Homo sapiens: one gene and its partner. The protein of the gene in region 1 interacts with the protein of each later gene in a pairwise test. Each region holds a gene or a part of one and is shown on either strand. Other genes may lie near its edges. The genes, in order: RAI1 and ZNF496.

What was found.
Region 2: the proteins of RAI1 (region 1) and ZNF496 interact in a two-hybrid assay, tested with the Homo sapiens proteins (one large-scale study listed by BioGRID and IntAct).

Annotation. Positions count from the first base shown.
Region 1 is NC_000017.11:17,796,397-17,800,206, forward strand, and holds part of RAI1 (retinoic acid-induced protein 1), read left to right. Parts: coding exon 1-2,117; intron 2,118-3,810. UniProt on the Homo sapiens protein: Transcriptional regulator of the circadian clock components: CLOCK, BMAL1, BMAL2, PER1/3, CRY1/2, NR1D1/2 and RORA/C. Positively regulates the transcriptional activity of CLOCK a core component of the circadian clock.
Region 2 is NC_000001.11:247,304,215-247,308,024, reverse strand, and holds part of ZNF496 (zinc finger protein 496), read left to right. Parts: coding exon of another isoform or gene 1-152; exon of another isoform or gene 153-1,323; intron 1,324-3,810. UniProt on the Homo sapiens protein: DNA-binding transcription factor that can both act as an activator and a repressor.

The DNA of each region.
Region 1 (3,810 bases):
CCAAAACCCAGGAGATCTTCCACTCCAAGCGGCGGAGGCCCTCTGAGGGCCGGCTCCCCAACTGCCGTGCCACCAAGAAGCTCCTCGACAACAGCCACTTGCCCGCCACATTCAAGGTCTCCAGCAGCCCCCAGAAGGAGGGCAGGGTGAGCCAGCGGGCAAGGGTCCCCAAACCTGGTGCAGGCAGCAAGCTCTCTGACCGGCCCCTCCATGCGCTCAAAAGGAAGTCGGCCTTCATGGCGCCGGTCCCCACCAAGAAGCGGAACCTGGTCTTGCGGAGCCGCAGCAGCAGCAGCAGCAACGCCAGTGGCAATGGGGGAGATGGGAAGGAGGAGAGGCCTGAGGGTTCCCCCACCCTCTTCAAGAGGATGTCTTCTCCCAAGAAAGCCAAGCCCACCAAGGGCAATGGCGAGCCTGCCACAAAGCTCCCACCCCCGGAGACCCCCGATGCCTGCCTCAAGCTCGCCTCTCGGGCAGCCTTCCAGGGGGCCATGAAGACCAAGGTGCTGCCACCCCGGAAGGGCCGGGGCCTGAAGCTGGAAGCCATCGTGCAGAAGATCACCTCGCCCAGCCTCAAGAAGTTCGCATGTAAAGCGCCAGGGGCCTCTCCTGGTAATCCTCTGAGCCCATCCCTTTCCGACAAAGACCGTGGGCTCAAGGGTGCTGGGGGCAGCCCAGTGGGGGTGGAAGAAGGCCTGGTAAATGTGGGCACCGGGCAGAAGCTCCCAACTTCTGGGGCTGATCCGTTATGCAGAAATCCAACCAACAGATCCTTAAAAGGCAAACTCATGAACAGTAAGAAACTGTCTTCTACTGACTGTTTCAAAACCGAGGCCTTCACATCCCCGGAGGCCCTGCAGCCTGGGGGGACTGCCCTGGCGCCTAAGAAGAGGAGCCGGAAAGGCCGGGCAGGGGCCCATGGACTCTCCAAAGGCCCGCTGGAGAAGCGGCCCTATCTTGGCCCGGCTCTGCTCCTGACTCCCCGAGACAGGGCCAGTGGCACACAAGGGGCCAGTGAGGACAACTCTGGTGGAGGAGGCAAGAAGCCAAAGATGGAGGAGCTGGGCCTGGCCTCCCAGCCCCCGGAGGGCAGGCCCTGCCAGCCCCAGACAAGGGCACAGAAACAGCCAGGCCACACCAACTACAGCAGCTATTCCAAGCGGAAGCGCCTCACTCGGGGCCGGGCCAAGAACACCACCTCTTCACCCTGTAAGGGGCGTGCCAAGCGACGACGACAGCAGCAGGTGCTGCCCCTGGATCCCGCAGAGCCTGAAATCCGCCTCAAGTACATTTCCTCTTGCAAGCGGCTGAGGTCAGACAGCCGGACCCCCGCCTTCTCACCCTTCGTGCGGGTGGAGAAGCGAGACGCGTTCACCACCATATGCACTGTTGTCAACTCCCCTGGAGATGCGCCCAAGCCCCACAGGAAGCCTTCCTCCTCTGCCTCCTCTTCCTCATCCTCGTCCTCGTTCTCCTTGGATGCAGCCGGGGCCTCCCTGGCCACACTCCCTGGAGGCTCCATCCTGCAGCCGCGGCCCTCCTTGCCCCTCTCCTCCACGATGCACTTGGGGCCTGTGGTTTCCAAGGCCCTGAGTACCTCTTGCCTTGTTTGCTGCCTCTGCCAAAACCCGGCCAACTTCAAGGACCTTGGGGACCTCTGTGGGCCCTACTACCCTGAACACTGCCTCCCCAAAAAGAAGCCAAAACTCAAGGAGAAGGTGCGGCCAGAAGGCACCTGTGAGGAGGCCTCGCTGCCGCTTGAGAGAACACTCAAAGGTCCCGAGTGTGCAGCTGCCGCCACTGCCGGGAAGCCCCCCAGGCCTGACGGCCCAGCTGACCCGGCCAAGCAGGGCCCACTGCGCACCAGTGCCCGGGGCCTGTCCCGGAGGCTGCAGAGCTGCTACTGCTGTGATGGCCGGGAGGATGGGGGCGAGGAGGCAGCCCCAGCCGACAAGGGTCGCAAACATGAGTGCAGCAAGGAGGCTCCGGCAGAGCCCGGCGGGGAGGCCCAGGAGCACTGGGTGCATGAGGCCTGTGCCGTGTGGACCGGCGGCGTCTACCTGGTGGCCGGGAAGCTCTTTGGGCTGCAGGAGGCCATGAAGGTGGCCGTGGACATGGTAAGAGGCCAGCCCAGCCAGGGTGGGGAGTGTGGGGTTCCAAAGGACAGGCAGGCAGGCAGTCGGGGAGCCCCTTGTTTCTAGTGCTACAGTGTGGGCCAAATGTGTCTGCAGTCTCGGGACAATCTGCAGAGTCCTGAGCCTCTCTGGGGTGTGTGGGGGAAGTGGAGGCACCCATCTGGCTAAGGCAGGTCACACTCACCTACCCTGTCCCAGGAGACTTCCCGCCGGGGCCCGTATGCCCAGCCACCGCCACTCTCCCACTCACCTGGCATCTTCAGGCTCCAGCCCCACCCAGAATCCACTGGGCCCCTCCCCATGCTGTCACCGGAGATGCCAAGGCCCAGAGAACACGAGGACTCCCAAGATTGAACATCAGGGCTGCCCCGGGCGGTGCAAGAGCAAGTTGCCCACCCTCTGTTCCTGTCTCCATTGCCTCTGGGATGAAGCTAAGGGCTCAGGAAGACCCTCTCTGGCGACACAGGCTTGGTGCATGGACCCAGTCACAGGGTTCCTCCCTCTGCAGGACAGTCCATGGGGTCACACAGTCACAACAGGCAGGGCGGGGCAGATCCAGACCCTCTCACCATTGGCTCTGAGACCAGCTTTGGAAGCCATAGTCACTGAGCACCAACATGAGAGAGGGAACTCTGGGGCTGTGCCGCCATGCACCTTTGGGGCTGTGACCTGCCCTCTCTGTGCCTCCGTCCCCTCGCCCCTAACGTGGGTATGAGGGTGCCCATGGAGGAGGGGTCGGGAGGGTTAAAAGGTGGGCACCTCTGAGCCCACCGAGCACAGCAGCCCTGTGATAGTCAGTGCAGAGGGGCCTGGTGGCTCTGGTGACAGCAGGGTGACGTTCTTCGTGGTGTCACCACTTCCCCAGTACCATAGAGTACCTCTGTGCCCTTCTGAGGGAGGGGTCAGTGGGGGCGGTGGGGTGCACCTCTCCCCCGGGGCCATGCTTCTGCCCCCACATTCAACCCCGACTCCACTGCCTCATCCAGACTTCCGTGGAGTGACGCTCCCGGCTCTCAGCGCTGTGTGGTGGCTCTCAGTGGGGACGCCTGCAGCCTTCTCTGGCCCCTGCCCTGAGTCCCATCCCCTCCACTCCTTCCTTCAACCCACTATGTGCGGCTGAGGTCACAGGGGAGCCAGAGGGGCTTGGCAGGGGTCTCCAGAGGCCCTGGACAAACACTGCCTGCATCTGAGTGATTCAGTGACCCAGCACAGTGGCCCCAGCCGGTGGCTTCGCCCCTCCCCCTGCCCAGCCTCCTCCCCCGTCGCTGCACTGCCCACCTGCTCCTCGCAGTACACCCCTGCAGCCCCTCTGAGCAGCCCCTGCTCCTGACAGTTGCCGTGGCATTGCCTGGCCAAACCAAGGTCCCGGTGGGGGCCCACTGTGTTTGCCACCCACGCCTCCTAGTGTGTGTCTTGGGCACCTGCTTCCCACTGCCCATGGGGATGGCTGGAGACCTTCTCCACGCCCAGACGCCCTGCCCACCTCACTCCACCCTCCACCTCAGAGGAAGGCTGGCCCCGACAGGACTCCTGCAGGTTCCTGGTGCCGCGGGCCTTGCTTACCCAGCAGATGGTGGCCTTGGGCCTCTTCCCTCTCCCCTTCCCAGTTAGTGATTTTTTGCCTCTCTCCTGCTTTCTGTCTCTCTCTGTCTCTCTCTCTCTCTCTCTCTCTCTC
Region 2 (3,810 bases), on another chromosome or scaffold:
GGATGGCCAGCATCCTGGCACAGAATCTTGGAACTGGGATTAAAGAGCAGGTTTCTGGCATACTGAAGCTGCACAGGACTCTTGGAAAGTGTATGTTCCATTCCTGCTTTCAGAGAAATAGCCACAGTGTAGACTCTGAGTCGTCTTGGTAAAAGTCACCACTTCCAGAAGCAGAGGCTACAATACTGCCATCTTTCTCTTCTCAATACAAAACCCAAGCCTCTGATTCTTACCTGAACCCACGTGTCATTGTAGTTTTCTGCAGCTATGGAGACCAACTCACACATATTATCTCTTCTACCTGTGATGCTTTTGAAGGCAAGATTTATGCCATTTTGACCCAGCTCCATGCATCTTGTACTTGGCCCCCTTTCATGCATGGACAAAGGGGCTTTTCTAGTGTGGGAGATCTGAAAGGATGAGATCCTGCTCCACAAGCATGGATGCCCACCCCTGGTTTTCTAAGAAGCCCACCTCTGCGTGCCAAGAGTGATGCATTCATTTGGGGTCCACTTGGAGTTCAAGCGCAGGCCTGATGTTTGTGGTGCACTTTGAATCTTCTCTAGCTTCTTTCTGCCCATAGCATGTCTCTCAGCCCCATCAATATACTTTTAGAAGATGGATGGATGTTCATTTATACACAGGAGTTTTCAACTCCATTCTTCCCTTGCTGGACTCTGACACAGACTGCTCTGAAACAGCCAGAAGCCAAGGGTTGCTACTGAGAAAGGGGAGAGACGATATATTTCAAAGAGTGGGCACTGTACTTATTTTGGTAGCTCCTGCCAGCTTGCCTTCCTAAAAGGCTTTTCCCGCCAGCTGATGCCGGATAGCTGGTGATAAGGTCTGCTTCTCTATATCCATGCCCACGCAGGACACTCCCAGATGTTCAGTTTGTGCCAATCAAATAATGCTACTACATCCGCCACTGAGGTGGAATATCTTTTCTTGTTTATTGTGTTCTATGAATTGCCTAGTTAGTATTCATTTATCCTTATTTATTTATTTTTGCACTCATACTTGTTTTCTTTATGTCCTAAACATTGCACCAGGATTCAGTGATTTACATGATGACATGATTCTGTGCATTGTATCTTCATGGCACCTTCTGAGATAGGTGGCATGATGTCTCTGTATTGCAGCTGGGGCACCCGAGAGCTGAAGTCACTTGCCCAGAGTCCAGTGCTCACAAGCTGTAGGTGGTGGAGTGAAGATTTGAACTCAGGCTGGGCGCAGTGGTTCATGCCTGTAATCTCAGCACTTTGGGAGGCCGAGGCGGGCAGATCGCCTGAGGTTAGGAGTTCAAGACCAGCCTGGCCAACATGGCGAAACCTGTCTCTACTAAAAATACAAAAATTAGCCAGGCACAGTGGCAGACACCTGTAGTCTCAGCTACTGGGGAGGCTCAGGCAGGAGAATCGCTTGAACCTGGGAGGTCAAGGCTGCAGAAATCATGACACTGCACTCCAGTCTGGACAACAGAGCGAGAGTCTGTCTCCAAAAAAAAAAAGAAAAAGAAAAAAAAAACGGCCAGGTGCAGTGGCTCACGCCTGTAATCCCAGCACATTGAGAGGCTGAGGCAGGCAGATCGCTGAGGTCAGGAGTTCAAGACCAGCCTGGCCAATATGGCGAAACCCCATCTCCACTAAAAAATATAAAAATTAACCAGGCGTGGTGGTGGGCACCTATAATCCCAGCTGCTTGGGAGGCTGAGGCAGAGAGAATTGCTTGAACTCAGGAGGTAGAGGTTGCAGTGAGCCAAGATCACGCCACTGCGCTCCAGCCTGGGACACGGAGCAAGACTCCATCTTAAAAAAAAAAAAAAAGATTTGAACTCAGGCTGTCAGGCTTCAGACCCATGGCTTTTACTCTACATTACCAAACCACGGTTTGCTTTTTCTGTGGATTCATAGAAACTGCCATCTTTCATAGGTTCTTCTAAATACCAAATCCAAGTCTCTGATTCTTACCTGAACCCACGTGTCGTTGTAGTTTTGGGTCTGAATCCCTTGCCTCTGCTGTATTCATACATAGTTTCTTCCATTTCCCTCAACTTTGTTTATGTGTCTTGCAGCATATAAATGTTTTGTTTTGTTTTGTTTTGTTTTTTAAAGATGGGGTCTCTTTATGTTGCCTAGACTGGTCTTGAAGTCTTGGGCTCAAGCAGCCTTTCTGCTTTGGCTTCCCAAATAGCTGGGGAGACTACAGGCGTGTGCCATCATGCCTGGCTTAAATGTTTTCTTACAGTTTTTAACTGTAGGTACACTTATTCGTCATCTTTTTGGTTTTATGCCTTGCTTGAGAAAGCTTCCCCATTCTAACTTTACAAGAATATTTTACAGTTTTTAATAATGCCTTTATCATTTTGGTTTTTCACATCCAGCTTCCTAGTCTCCCCTGCTGTTCCCCTTAATCCCCTCAGCTCGCAGGAAGTCATTCATTCCTGGCCAGAGCATCCTTCCTGAGGCGATAGTCATGGAGTTACCTGCACGCTGCATGCCTTTGCCACTCCGCCTGCAACAAGCACTTGCAGCAGCCTGGCTGCCTGCTAGCTATGTGGCCACGAGCCCTGGTCCCATCTCCACTGGCTCAATTCCCCTGAAACCTTGGGCAATTTCACTTTTCTGCCTTACATTTTTTATTTGGAAAACAGAAATAATAGTTAAAGCTGCCTTGTACAGTTATTGCTAAGGATTAAATGGTTTAATGCATATACTGGCAGTTAGACCAATAGCTCTTTTCTTTTTTTTCAGACGGAGTCTAGCTCTGTCACCCAGGTTAGAGAACAGTGGCGCGATCTTGGCTTACTGCAACCTCTGCCTCCCGTGTTCCAGCAATTTTCCTGCCTCGGCCTCCCACCATATGTGGGAGCCCACCCACCCATATGTCGTCATGTTCACTTAATTACATCTTGAAAGAGCCTATCTTCAAATACAGTCACATTCTGAGGTCCTTAGGGTTAGGACTTCAACATGAAATTTTGGGACAACACAATTCATCCCCTGTAAGACCTCACCCTCAGGACCTTCAAAATTCATGTCTTTCCCACATGCACAATCCATTCACCTCATCCCAACAGCCCCCAAATTCTCAACCTGTTTCAGCATCAACTGTAAGTCCAAAATCTCATCTAAATATCAACATCTCAAATCAGGTATGGGTTAGACTTGAAGTATGATTCATCCTGAGGCAAAACCCTCTCCAGCTATGAACTGTGAAACCAGATGTTTTTTGCTTCCAAAATACAACTGTGAGAAAAGCATAGCATAGACCATTCTCATTCCAAAATAGAGAAATCCAAGAGAAGAAAGGGTAATGGGTCCCAAGCAAGTCTTAAATCTAGCAGGTCAGGGCTAGGTGTGGTGTGGCTCGTGCCTATAATCCCAGCACTTTGGGAGGCCGAGGCAGGCGGATCACCTGAGGTCAGTAGTTCGAGACTGCACTGGCAAAAATGGGGAAACCCTCTCTCTACTAAAAATACAAAAATTAGCCAGACGTGGTGGCACACACCTGTAATCCCAGCTACTCAGGAGGCTGAGGCAGGAGAATTGCTTGAACCCAGGAGGCAGAGGTTGCAGTGAGCCAAGATCATGCCATTGCACTCCAGCCTGGGCAGCAAGAGCGAAACCCCATCTCAAAAAAAAAAAAAAAAAATCTAGCAGGTCATTTCCATGGGATTTTAAGGCTCAGCAATAACCTCTGGCTCAGTTCTCTGTTCTCCAGGCCCAGCAGGCTACTGGCCCTGCTCTTTGGAACTCAGAAGGAAATGACTTCACCTCCTGAGCCTGTACTCTCTGGTCCCATGATGAC